3 separate regions of the Homo sapiens genome follow, and all the other regions are reported to be linked to region 3. Evidence: microRNA targets listed by miRTarBase, many of them from high-throughput screens and not tested one by one. Region 3 holds a microRNA gene; each other region holds the end of a gene's coding sequence.
The links. The annotated mature microRNA hsa-miR-5695 reads ACUCCAAGAAGAAUCUAGACAG and lies in region 3 at 2,971-2,992, opposite strand. An mRNA with a match to its seed (bases 2 to 7 or 8) in the 3' UTR can be bound and repressed. Matches are read on the target gene's strand: a 7mer-m8 pairs with bases 2 to 8, a 7mer-A1 pairs with bases 2 to 7 and ends in A, and an 8mer does both.

Region 1 (4,141 bases), not on the chromosome of region 3:
TTCTGCATTTTCCGCCTACCACAACCTCCAGGGGCTGCTGTGGGGGGATCCACGAGGCCCTGCCCATCCTGGAAGGCCGTGAGAGTGGACTTGGTAGTTGCACCCGTCAGCCAGTTCCCTTTCGCCCTGCTCGGTTGGACTGGCTCCAAGGTAGGCAGTGTGCCGCTGGGCCGCCTGGGGGTGGGGCTGGGCCAGCCCTGCTGAGGACAATCCCTTCCCTACAGCTTTTCCAGCGGGAGCTGCGCCGCTTCAGCCGGAAGGAGAAGGGCCTGTGGCTGAACAGCCATGGGCTGTTTGACCCGGAGCAGGTACATTGTTGGGGACTGGGGACAGCAAACAGCACCCATAGTCCGCTCCCTGACCCACAATCTGAAATGGCCCCAGACCCCTCCAGCCTGAAACCCATAGGACCCGAATCTGGGTCTCCACACACAGTTCCTGGCCCTCAAGAGCACACCCCACCTCGGCGCTGGGCTCTTCCCCACCCTCAGTCTTCCTGCAGGGAAGCAGCAGTGGCAAGACTCCTAGGTCACGGAAGTCCTGCTTCTGTTGCAGAAGACATTTTTCCAAGCGGCTTCAGAGGAAGACATCTTCAGACACCTGGGCCTTGAGTACCTTCCTCCAGAGCAGAGAAACGCCTGAGCCTGCCTGTGTCCCCCACTTCCACTCAGGAAATTGGGCTGCCCCCAACCTGGCCACTGAATGTCTCCAGGCAGATATGCTGCCCCCTGACCCCCACCTTCACCCCTCCCCGCCAAGGCCTGGCTCTTCCGGAGGTCAATTGTGCCTGCAGGATCAGTTGAGCCCCTGCTGGTGTGCTGCAGGGTGTGATGAGGTGGGAGCCCTCAGTGCCAGCCTCATCACTGTGTGACCCTGGGTCTGCTCTTAGCCTCCCCATGGCTCACGTTCCTGCCCTGGATGGGATGTGAGTGGGGCCCACATCGTGGAGCTGTGGTGGGGCCTGCAGTCATGAATGGCAAGTGGTCCCTGATGTGCAGTGTCTCATTAGTTGCACTGCAGTTAACTGTGGCTCCTGCAGGGCACCCTGCCCAGAATGCCCAGAAGAGAACCATGCATACCTGCACTGCATTTGAGAGCCATGAGCTGGAGGCTGTGGTTCGTGCCAGCAAGGAGCCTACTGTCTGGTGTGCTGTAGGCATCTGGAGAGGGAGAGGGCCTGGGTAGGAGCTGGGAGGAAGATAATTTTCAACTATGGGGCTTCAGTACTGCAGCGCCCCGAGCCAGGCTCTGTGCTTCTGCCTTTAAGGCCTGTTCTCAGCACAATGTCTCAAAAATAGGTCATATCCTGCCACTCCCGTCGCAGAGCCCTTTAATGGTTCCAAACCCTAAGTCCACACATAGCCCCTGGCTCTGGCATCTCTCCAGCCCCACTGGCCCCGAGCTGCTTGACTCACCGGCTTCCTATTTGATGCACCCAGGCCCCCTTGTGGCCAACTCCCTCCCCTTCTCACTGAGGCAGAAGCACTGAGGTGGGCTGGACATGGGTGCCCTCCACGTCCCTCATATCCCCAGGCACACTCTGGCCTCAGGTTTTGCCCTGGCCATGTCATCTACCTGGAGTGGGCCCTCCCCTTCTTCAGGCCTTGAATCAAAAGCCACTTTGTTAGGCGAGGATTTCCCAGACCACTCATCACATTAAAAAATATTTTGAAAACATGCAGTAAAGTTGACTCTTGGGGTGCAGTTTTTGCACACGTAGGGCACACCAGGTCCATCCCCAGAACACTTCCCATGCTGTCCTATTGTGGTCATGTGCTTCTCCACCCCCACCCACTTAGCGGTGCTACATCCCTATAGTTTTGCTTTCTCTAGAATGTCATGTAAATAGAACCAAACTATATTTAACCTTTGGACTGGCCTCTCCCCACAGCCTAATGCCTTTGACGTTCCTGCAGGTTGCTGGGTATGTTGAGTTTGTAATTTGTTCCATGCCATGGGTGTTCTACAGTTTATCCATTCAGGTGTTGAATGTCTGGGTTGTGGCCGGATGCCGTGGCTCATGCCTGTAATCCTAGCACTTTGGGAGGCTGAGACGGGTGGATCACTTGAGGCCAGGAGTTTGAGACCAGCCTGGCCACCATGGCGAAACCCCATCTCTACAAAAAATACAAAAATTTGCTGGGCATGTTGGCTCATACCTGTATTCCCAGCTACACGGGAGGCTGAGGCATAAGAATTGCTTGAACCTGGGATGCCAAGGTTGCAGTGAGCTGAGATTGTGCCACTGCACTCCAGCCTGGGCGACAGAGCAAGAGTCTGCCTAAAAAGAAAAAAAGTCTGGGTTGTTTCCAGGGTTTGGAGATGATGAATCGTACTGCTACAGACATGCATGTACAGGTTTTCGTGTAACACATGGGTCTTCATTTCTCTTGGGTAAATAGGCACAGGATTACTGGGTCATTTGGTAAGTATATGTTTATTTCATAAGAGCCAAGTTGTTGTCCCGAGTGCGTCTGTCATTTTGCAGTCCACCAGCGTTGTGAGCACCCCTGTAAGTTAAACACCACAGTAGGCAGTTGCTCTGTATCCCTGTCAGCACTTGATAGTTGCAGTATTTGTTAACTTTAGCTTTTCTAGTAGTAGGTACATAACAGTAGCTCACTGTGGTTTTATTTTCATTTCCCTAATGCCTGATAACGTTGAACATCTGTTCACTGGCTTCTATGTCCTCACTGGTGAAGTGGCTGTTCAAGTCTCATTTTTAAAAATGGAATTGTTGGCCAGGCATGGTGACTCACACCTGTAATCCCAGCACTTTGGGATGCCAAGGTGGGTGGATCACCTGAGGTCAGGAGTTCGAGACCAGCCTGGCCAACATGGCAAAACCCAAAGTGCTAGGATTACAGGCATGAGCCACCATGCCCATCTGTTACTGTTCAATCTTGAGAGTTCTTTATGTGCCACTATGGTGACTGGTAAATATTTTTTCCCAGTGTGTAGACTATCTTTCTTCTTTTAGCACTGTTTTTTTCATAGTAAATGTATTTAATTTTTGTGAAGTCCAGTTTATCAATTTATTCAGTTTACCAGTTTTTTTCTTATGTTTTTGGAGTCCTATCTCTGACCCCAAATCACAAAGATTTTCTTTGCTTTCTTTTATAGTTTGTTTCTTTGTTTTCCCCAGAAACAGGGTCTTGCTCTGTCACCCAGGCTGGAGTGCAGTAGTATGATCATAGCTCACTGCAGTCTCAAACTCCTGTGCTCAAGCAATCCTCCTGCCTCAGCCTCCCAAGTAGCTAGGACTACAGGCACAAGCCACCAAGCCCAGCTAATTTTTTTTTTTTGAGACGGAGTCTCGCTCTGTCGCCCAGGCTGGAGTGCAGTGGTGCGATCTCGGCTCACTGCAAGCTCTGCCTCCCGGGTTCACACCATTCTCCTGCCTCAGCCTCCCGAGTAGCTGGGACTGCAGGCACCCACCACCACGCCCGGCTAATTTTTTATATTTTTAGTAGAGACGGGGTTTCACCGTGTTAGCCAGGATGGTCTGGATCTCCTGACCTCGTGATCTGCCCACCTCGGCCTTCCAAAGTGCTGGGATTACAGGTGTGAGCCACAGTGCCCGGCCTTGAGTTAATTTTTATATAAGTGTAAAGTGGGGATTCATTGTTTTGCACGTGGAAATCCAGTTGTCCCAGCACCATTTGTTAAAGATACTATTCTTTACTCATTGAATTATTTTGGCACCCTTGTCAAAAATCAATTAACCATTGTGTGAAGGATTTTTCCCTGGACTCTCAATTTTTGCATATGTACTCATAAGAGGTTGGTCTGTAGTTTCCTTAGGTTGTTTGTCTGGGTTTGGTATCAGGGTAATACTGCCCTCAGAGAATGAGTTGTTACCTTTTACTTCAACCTACTTGTATCCTGTTATATTTAATGTGAGTTACTTAAAGACAGCATATAATTAGGTTTTTATAATCCAAACTGATAATATGTCGAATTGGCGTGATGAGGCCATTTATGTTTAATGCAACTATTGAAATGTTTGGCTTTAGATCTACCATTATGTTGTTTTCTGTTTGTTCCCTGTTTTCCATTGCTGTTTCTTCTTTCCTTTTTTCCTTCCCTCCTATCTCTCCTTCTCCCTATACACACACACACACACCCCCAACACACACAC
Region 2 (4,293 bases), not on the chromosome of region 3:
AATATGGGGAAATCTTCTGTGACAATTCAGCTTTCATTATCCATCAGGGAGCTTACACAAGAAAGATTCTCCGTGAATATAAAGTGAGTGACAAAACCTGGGAAAAGTCAGCTCTCTTAAAACATCAAATAGTACACATGGGGGGAAAGTCTTATGATTACAATGAAAATGGGAGTAATTTCAGCAAGAAGTCACATCTTACCCAGCTTCGGAGAGCTCACACAGGAGAAAAAACCTTTGAATGTGGTGAATGTGGGAAAACCTTCTGGGAGAAGTCAAACCTCACTCAACATCAGAGAACACACACAGGAGAGAAGCCCTATGAATGTACTGAATGTGGGAAAGCCTTTTGCCAGAAACCACACCTGACCAACCATCAGCGAACACATACAGGAGAAAAACCCTATGAATGTAAGCAATGTGGAAAAACATTCTGTGTGAAGTCAAACCTCACTGAACATCAGAGAACACACACAGGGGAGAAGCCCTATGAATGTAATGCATGTGGGAAATCCTTCTGCCACAGATCAGCCCTCACTGTGCATCAGAGAACACACACAGGGGAGAAACCGTTTATATGTAATGAATGTGGAAAATCCTTCTGTGTGAAGTCAAACCTCATTGTACATCAAAGAACTCACACTGGGGAGAAACCATATAAGTGTAATGAATGTGGGAAAACCTTCTGTGAAAAATCAGCTCTCACTAAACATCAGAGGACTCACACAGGGGAGAAGCCGTATGAGTGTAATGCATGTGGGAAGACCTTTAGTCAGAGGTCAGTGCTCACCAAACATCAGAGAATTCACACAAGGGTGAAAGCTCTTTCAACATCCTGAATGTTAGAAGCCTTCATACACTTGTGAAATTGGTTATACAGTTTCAAAAAAGGAGATCAGAGAAAGCCAAAGAATGTCAGAAATTTGTAGAAAATGACTTCTTGTTTGAATATGTAAAAGCTTTCAAGAAAAATTAAAACTTTTCATTAGAAAATTTGTACTGAGGGGAATTCTATTCATCTAAGTAATATGGTGAAAATATTTATCTGGAATTTATGTTGTTTAGTGTTATATTCCAGACGTGATACCAAAATTTTGTTGCAAATATAATGGACAATATTTATTTATACCCATATTCACAGTGGAATCTGAAGCTTATAAAAGTTGAATGACAGCAGCATTAAACATATATGTGAAGAGTCCCCGATGTTTGTAGACCTTATGTGAGTATGCAAATATATAAATTTGAGTATGCTTGATTTGTATATTGGAACTCAACATGATCATAAGGAGAAGATACGTACCCTTAATTGAGTAACTACTATGGTATTTGTTAATATTTTCTACACTAAATACCATTGGTGTCTTTATAGGTTGACATAATTATATATGTGTATGTACATATGTTTGTGTGTATATGTAAATATATTTCTACACACATACTTAAATATAGTGATGTGCTAGTATAACCTCATACTGACTTAAAAGTTCTGATTGTTAAATTTTAAGGAATTTTGTGAGCCAGTTATTAAAAGCAGTCATTATTTAAAATATGTAAACTTACAGTTAAAAACAAAGGTAATAAATACTCAGCACTCATCACTTCCTAATTATTTTGCTACATTTCACTATTACCTTTGCTGTTTTACTTATTTAATCTGTATGATGAAAATACTGTATAATAGTGTGCACTGCACATCTGTCTCTTCCCAGCTCCACATTCAGTGCTGTCTTGGTAGCTTGGACTTAGTGGGAGTGTTTACACCATGGAAATTGACAAACTATAAATCAGGGTTTTAATTTTCTCAGAGAACCTGCTGTCAAATATTTACAGCACATCACTGTGTATATATGAAAACGTATTTGGCAATACAAACCACATACCCCTTCTATTTCCTGACATAAATAAATGGCTATGGCCATTTACAGCTGAACCACGTCTTCAAGAAAGAAGCCAAAAATATTTCCGTGAGGTTTTTAACTACCTCTGAATCTGTCCTACTCTAAATACTACCGGAGTCTCTTTGTAGGTTGGCCAGTATATGTTTTTAGTGAAATATTATTTCACAAAGAACTATATCACGTACCTTTCCTCTGACTGTTTCCTGGCATATATGCATGAATATGGCCATTATTGAACTATCACTTCAGTAAAGAAGTTAAACAGTACTTTTCTGAGGTTTTTCAGCTACCTCTGGGTCATTCTGTAATGTAAATGTTGTTAATAAGAATGGTTTTTACATAAATTATGCAAAGGTTAACAAGCAGTAACACTGCACTCCTCAAAAAGTGGCGGTATGTAATGAAAGGCCCTTTTGATATCCTTGATTTTTCATTGTGTATCTGTTTGGGCACGGTCTATGTAACACTAGTTCTGCGTATTAGTATTTTAGAGTATCTCTGCCTCCCTTGTCCTGTTGTTTCTTTTGCCCCCTTGGAACACATTGGTCAGCAGTTCTAAGAGACACTGCCCACATGATGGCCATTCCCTACTTCATCCTTGCTGAGCTAAATTTTATATTTTTGTGCATCCTTCTCCCAGATGACTTAGGTGGTAAGTCCAGATTAGTCAAAGCTAATCATGGAAGTTCCATTTTAATGATTCTGTTGGGGTGAACTTGGGAGCAATGAGATGTTTGGGAAGTATTGTGTAGTACTTCTGGGAAAGATCTCCTTGATACAACATTGTCATGACATGAGAAGAGACTCTGCTGGGCTTTTTCATGTCTGTAACATGGTATTGGCTTATCGTTTTTATCTCTGAAGGGCAGTAGCCTGAAGATAACAGTGCACAAGGTGGGAAAAGCCAGCTCAGAGGTGACGTTGCCGAGCTACTCTGCTCTCTATACCTGTTCTCTACTGGGACTTTTTATAACCCTCAATAACTGTTTTTTATTTGGTCTTAGGGCTGTCTGATACTTAGAGCTGAAGGCATTCCAGCTGACACAGAGGAATATTTTTCTAAGTGTTAATGTTCTATATGGTAATTAGGGGGAAGAATTATTTCTTTTCACAAGTTAATATAGGGATGGCTGTTTGTATCAGCCATGGTTCTTTCTGGTGGAAAACAGAATTCTCCAACTAAAAATATTTTAATGGCAGACTGATTACAGTGGTGTGGGCCAGAAACAAGGGACAGTGAAACACCCAGAGACTTGTATCAGCAGGAAGCCATTGCCATTCTGAGCCTTGAAGGGCAAGGAGGGAAACAGTGTTACCAGAGCCCAGTAAGAACTGCTGTCATGAAGGAGGGGCCACCTTGTAAGAGACATCATTACTACCAGAACTGTGGTGCCAAATTGCTGGTGTCTCTCTTTGGAGAAACCAACCAGATACATCTGCTGGAGAGCCCAGGTGGGCACAGAGAAGGGTGGAGAGAGAATCTGGGAAGAGAAATGGAGAATAAGCAGCACAGTGTTATTCATTTCTGTAAATTCCTATGTAGAAGGCTCAGTGTTAGAAATAAAGTTATTCTACTAGTTGCAAGTTAAGTGTTTCTGTTTGTTCTGCTTTCCTGTTAGCATAAGTAAACTCCCTTTGGAACTACACAGGTATGTCTCTCCTTCAACATGTGTGAAGCAGACATTATATTAAATTACATTATTCATACCTCCCTGTGGTGTTTCTTATTGTATGTGGTGTAAGGTAAGCAGCTCTGTATTCTTCCAAATAAATAGCCAGTTGTCCCTGCACTGTTTGATTAATTCACCCTTTCTTGTGTTAGTTTGATACATTTTTATTATGTACTTAAATATGTGTTATGACTATTGCTTTTGACTGCTCAATGCAACTTTTCTGCATTCTTCTAGTAATAGAACATGTCATTGTGATCACGGGGTGGCATTTACCCCAATCCTGGCTCTGCAGAGTACTGTGTCTTCATGTCCTCCACATTTGTATTGATCCAGAAATGATAGTTTGTTGTAAAATAGGCCAGTGACAAGCCCTCCTAGAATATTTTTATTGGGAGGTCACTGTAGACCAGAGAGTTTGTGTCCTTATTGCTTCCAGCAGTCATATTGAGAAAGTACATTTGCTCTGTAATCTATTGAAAGTCAGTCCACAACACAAAAATGAAAAAAGAAAAGAAGATGGCTATGATAAGCGCCATAAAGAAAAATCAAAATAGGAAAAGTTGTCAGATACAAGGTTTGATTTTAGATAGGATGGAGAGGAAAAGACCTCACTGAGCAGGCTACATTGAGGGAGGAGTGATGTGGATAAGATCTCGAAGAAGAGTGTGTTCACATGTGTGTATCTAACACATGCATGTAAACCAACAAATTCTGTTTCG
Region 3 (4,272 bases):
GAGATTACGCCACTGCACTCCACCCTAGGTTACAGAGTGAGACTCTGTTTCAAAAAAACAAATGCACTCAGCAAAAGAAGACAGAAGTGTGTACCAGGGCAGTAAGTGGTATAGGGAGGGCTAAGGCAACTACGTGGTCAGTGAAGGCATCATGGAGGAAGAAGTGCCACCTAAGCAAAATCTAGAGGTAGATAAAGAGGTAAACCATGAGAGTATCTGGGGAAGGGTGTCCCAGGTAGTGGTCACAGTCAGTTCAAAGGCCCAGAGGTGGGAATGTGCTTTTTGTATTAGGAGAAGAGTGAGGAGGCTGGTGTGGCTGAAGGCGGAGGGTGAGAGGTGATAGAGCAGTTGGCGCAGGGCCCTGTGGGTCATGGGGAGAACTTGAACTTTTCCTCTGAAGAAGATGGGAGCCATGGAAATCTGAGCAGAAGGGTGCACGTGCTGACCTCATGATAAACTCTGTTCCCTCCCCCACAAGCCCAACGATGATCAAATATGGCATCAACAATATCCGGGAGCTGGTGGGCCACAAGGTGAACCTGCAGATGGTGTATGACAGTCCCCTGTGCCGCCTGGATGCCGAGCCGAGGCCCCCTCCCACACAGGAGGCTGCGTGACATGGGCCACTCTAGGACAGGTCATCCTCCCCGAGTCCCTGCTGCTGCGCTCCTTTGCATCCCTGGCCAGTGACCTTGTATTTATGAGGCCTCTGTGAGGCCAGCCCCCACCTTCCTCTTTCCCACCTGTCCCAGGACCAGAATCCCAGGGACAGAGGACTGGGTAGCAGGTTCCTTCTGTTGTCCTGTGTGGTGTGTCTACTGTGAGGGTGGGCCCTGAGGAGACCTGTGGGCCACCTATTGTCTAATAAAGTGGGCAGTTGCCCCCATCTGGTGGCTTTCCTTAGGGGTGAGGGGTCTTGTTGGGTCCCCCTAGCTCAGTGTGCCACTTGATGGTCAAAATTCTGGGTACTGGGCTGGGCGAGGTGGCCCGCGTCTGTAATCGCAGCACTTTGGGAGGCTGAGGCGGGCGGGTCACGAGGCCAGGCGATCGAGACCATCCTGGCTAACAGGGTGAAACCCCGTCTCTACTAAAAATACAAAAAAAAAAAAAAAAAGTATGGGTACTGAGCCAGGCACAGTGGCTCACTTCTGTAATCCCAGAACTTTTGGGAGGCCAAGGTGGGTGGGTCACTTGAGGTCAGGAATTCAGGAGCAGCCTGGCCAACGTGGTGAAACCCCATCTCTACTAAAAATAAAAAAATTAGGGCTGGGTGCGGTGGCTCATGCCTGTAATCCCAGCACTTTGGGAGGCTGAGGCGTGTGGATCATGAGGTCAAGAGATTGAGACCATCCTGGCCAACATGGTGAAACCCTGTCTACTAAAAATACAAAAAATTAGCCGGGCGTGGTGGCGGGTGCCTGTAGTCCCAGCTACTCAGGAGGCTGAGGCAGGAGAATGGTGTGAACCTGGGAGGCGGAGCTTGCAGTGAGCGGAGATCGCACCACTGCACTCCAGCCTGGGCAATAGAGCAAGACTCCGTCTCAAAAAAAAAAAAAAAAAAATTAGGCTGGGCGTGGTGGCTCACGCCTGTAATTCCAACACTTTGGGAAGCTGAGGCAGGCAGATCACTTGAGGTCAGGAGTTCGAGAGCAGCCTGGCCAACGTGGTGAAAACCCGTCTCTACTAAAAATACAAAAAAAAAGCTGGGCGTGGTGGTGAGCACCTGTAGTCCCAGCTACCCGGGAGGCTGAGGCACGAGAATCGTTTGAACCAGGAGGTGGAGGTTGCAGTGAGCCAAGATTGTGCCACTGCACTACAGCCTGGGTGACAGAAGAAGACTCTGTTCCAAAAAAAAAAACAAAAAACAAAAATTAGCAGGCATGATGGCAGGCACCTGTAGTCCCAGCTATCTGGGAGGCTGAGGTGGGAGAATCACTTGAACCCAGGAGGTGGAGGTTGTAGGGAGCTGAGATCACACCACTGCACTCCAGTCTGGGCCACAGAGTGAGACCTGTCCCCCAAAAACAGAAAACAAAAATTAGCTCAGCATAGTGGCTCATGCCTGTAATCCCAGGTACTCCAGAGACTGAGGTTGATCACTTGAGCCTGGGAGGTCGAGGCTGCAATGAGCCGTGATTACACCACTGCACTCCAGCCTGGGCAACAGAGTGAGACCCTGTCGTTAAATACATATTTATGTGTCTAAATAAACACAAGTACCCTGGAATCTTGCCATTTCCATCAAATCTGAACTTTGGCTGTGTAGGGGTGAAGAGAAAGCTTCCTTATTGCCCTCTGAAGTTTCACTAAAAATTACTGAGAAAAGGCAGATTAATAAGAGAAAAGGAATACGAATGTATTTGATCATAGTGTTACCTGACAAGCCTTCAGAATGAAGATCCAGAGATACAGGGGAAACTGTGTTTTTGTTTTGTTTTGTTTTGAGACGGAGTCTGGCTCTGTTCCCTGGGCTGGAGTGTAGGGGCGATCTTGGCTCACAGCAGCCTCAGCTTCCCAAGCAGCTGGGATTACAGGTGCCCGCCACCATGCCTGATTAATGAAAAGTGTCTTATGCTTAGGTTCAGCAAAGTTTGAACACCCAGGTAGAAATTTGATTGGACAAAAAGGGTTTGTCGTGGTTCATACTTGTAATCCTGACACTTTGGGAGGCTGAGGCGGGTGGATCACTTGAGGCCAGGAGTTTGAGACCAGCCTGAGCAACATGGAAAAACCCCATCTCTACTAAAAATACAAAAATTAGCTGGGCATGGTGCATCTGTAATCCCAGCTACTTGGTTGGCTGAGAATCGCTTGAACCTGGGAGGCCAAGGTTGCAGCGAGTTGAGATCTTGCCACTGCACTCCAGTGTTGCCTGGACAACAGAGCAAGACAAAAAAAAAAAAAAAAAAAAAAAGCCGGGGGGGTCGTCTAATACTAATAGGCTGAGTGGGGAAACCCAGCAAGGCCTATCTGTCTAGATTCTTCTTGGAGTCTCAGGAATGCATGCTCAGAGAGGCCAAGAAGAATCTAGATAGATAGGCCTTGTGTGGGGCAGAAACTTCTTTGAAACGGGGGTCTTATGACCTACAGTCAATAGGGTAGATCAGATAATTTCTTCTTTTTTTGAGACAGCACTTTGGGAGACCAAGACGGGAGGACGGCTTGAGCCCAGGAGTTGGGGATCAGCCTGGGCTCAGCACAGTGAGATCTCATTTCTACAGGAAAAAAAAATATAATTATGTGTGTGTGTGTGTGTGTGTGTGTGTGTATATATACATACAATCTTTTTTTTTTTTTTGAGACGGAGCTTTACTCTGTCACCCCGGCTGGAGTGCAGTGGCATGATCTCAGCTCACTGCAACCTCTGCGTCCTGGGTTTAAGCAATTCTCCTGCCCCAGCCTCCCGAGTAGCTGGGACTATAGGCGCCCGCCACCACGCCCGGCTATTTTTTGTATTTTTAGTAGAGACAGTTTCACCATGTTGGCTAGGCTGGTCTCGAACTCATGACCTCAGGTGATCCACCCGCCTCGGCCTCCCAAAGTGCTGGGATTACAGGCGTGAGCCACCGCGCCCGGCCAGAAAAATATTTTTAAATTAGAAGGGCCTGGTGAATGACACTGCTACTCAGGAGGCCGAGGCAGGAGGATCGCTTGAACCTGGGAGGTCGAGGCTACAGTGAGCTGTGATCGCACCACTGCACTCCAGCCTGGGCGACAGACCAAGATCTTGTCTCAAAAAAAAAAAAAAATTGTTATGGAGTATATTTTCCAAGGCAGAGTGGATGAAGTTAGAAGCACCGAATAAATACAGGACTCTGAGATCCGTATAACCTGGGCGCCCCGTGGAACCCAGGAGCCTCACAGGGGCACACAAGCGCACCCAGAGCGCGCCGTCCTGCTCCCAAGGGGCGCCGACTGCGCGCGCAGCCCGCGGACCGCGAAACTGCTGCTTAACGGTCGGCCCCGCCCAGTTGGCCGCGCAAGTTCTCAAAGAGGGCGGGGCCGGGAGCACGCGTCACAACACACTCGTCCGCGGGAGCGCAGCTGGCCAGGGGCGGGGTCGGCGCATGCGCAGAGGGTGCGAGCTTGAAGGCGGGAAAATACGGAATGGAGCGACAGGGAGTACGCGGCGCTTGTTTCCTTCTCGCGCGTGGGGCGGGCGGACAGATAGGCAGGGAACGGCTGCGATCCCAGCCATCTCCAGCGGACCCGAGCCCGGCCGCTTGTCCTTTGCCATTGGGGCTCCCTCTCATCAGGCCTGGCCTCAAATTT

Region 1: the mRNA of POLM is a reported target of hsa-miR-5695. The part of its 3' UTR that is shown has no 7-base or 8-base seed match.
Region 2: miRTarBase lists ZNF248 as a target of hsa-miR-5695. Seed matches in the 3' UTR shown: 7mer-A1 at 3,315-3,321.

The regions. Positions count from the first base shown.
Region 1 is chr7:44,069,792-44,073,932 of GRCh38, reverse strand. POLM (DNA polymerase mu) reads left to right here. Exons shown (of 11, transcript NM_013284.4): 9 at 1-150; 10 at 225-308; 11 at 556-1,871. The coding sequence ends at 642. It overlaps MIR6838 (microRNA 6838), which reads left to right and starts at 500; the gene lies at 500-555.
Region 2 is chr10:37,828,161-37,832,453 of GRCh38, reverse strand. It overlaps ZNF248 (zinc finger protein 248), which reads left to right. Exons shown (of 6, transcript NM_021045.3): 6 at 1-3,691. The coding sequence ends at 839. Among named protein-coding and RNA genes, the nearest start is that of ZNF248, 27 kb to the left of the region's middle.
Region 3 is chr19:12,919,093-12,923,364 of GRCh38, reverse strand. MIR5695 (microRNA 5695) reads right to left here and starts at 3,045; the gene lies at 2,961-3,045. SYCE2 (synaptonemal complex central element protein 2) reads left to right here and starts at 4,072. Exons shown (of 6, transcript NM_001105578.2): 1 at 4,072-4,122. The coding sequence starts at 4,108. FARSA (phenylalanyl-tRNA synthetase subunit alpha) reads left to right here. Exons shown (of 13, transcript NM_004461.3): 13 at 479-886. The coding sequence ends at 617. RefSeq lists an enhancer at 4,253-4,272.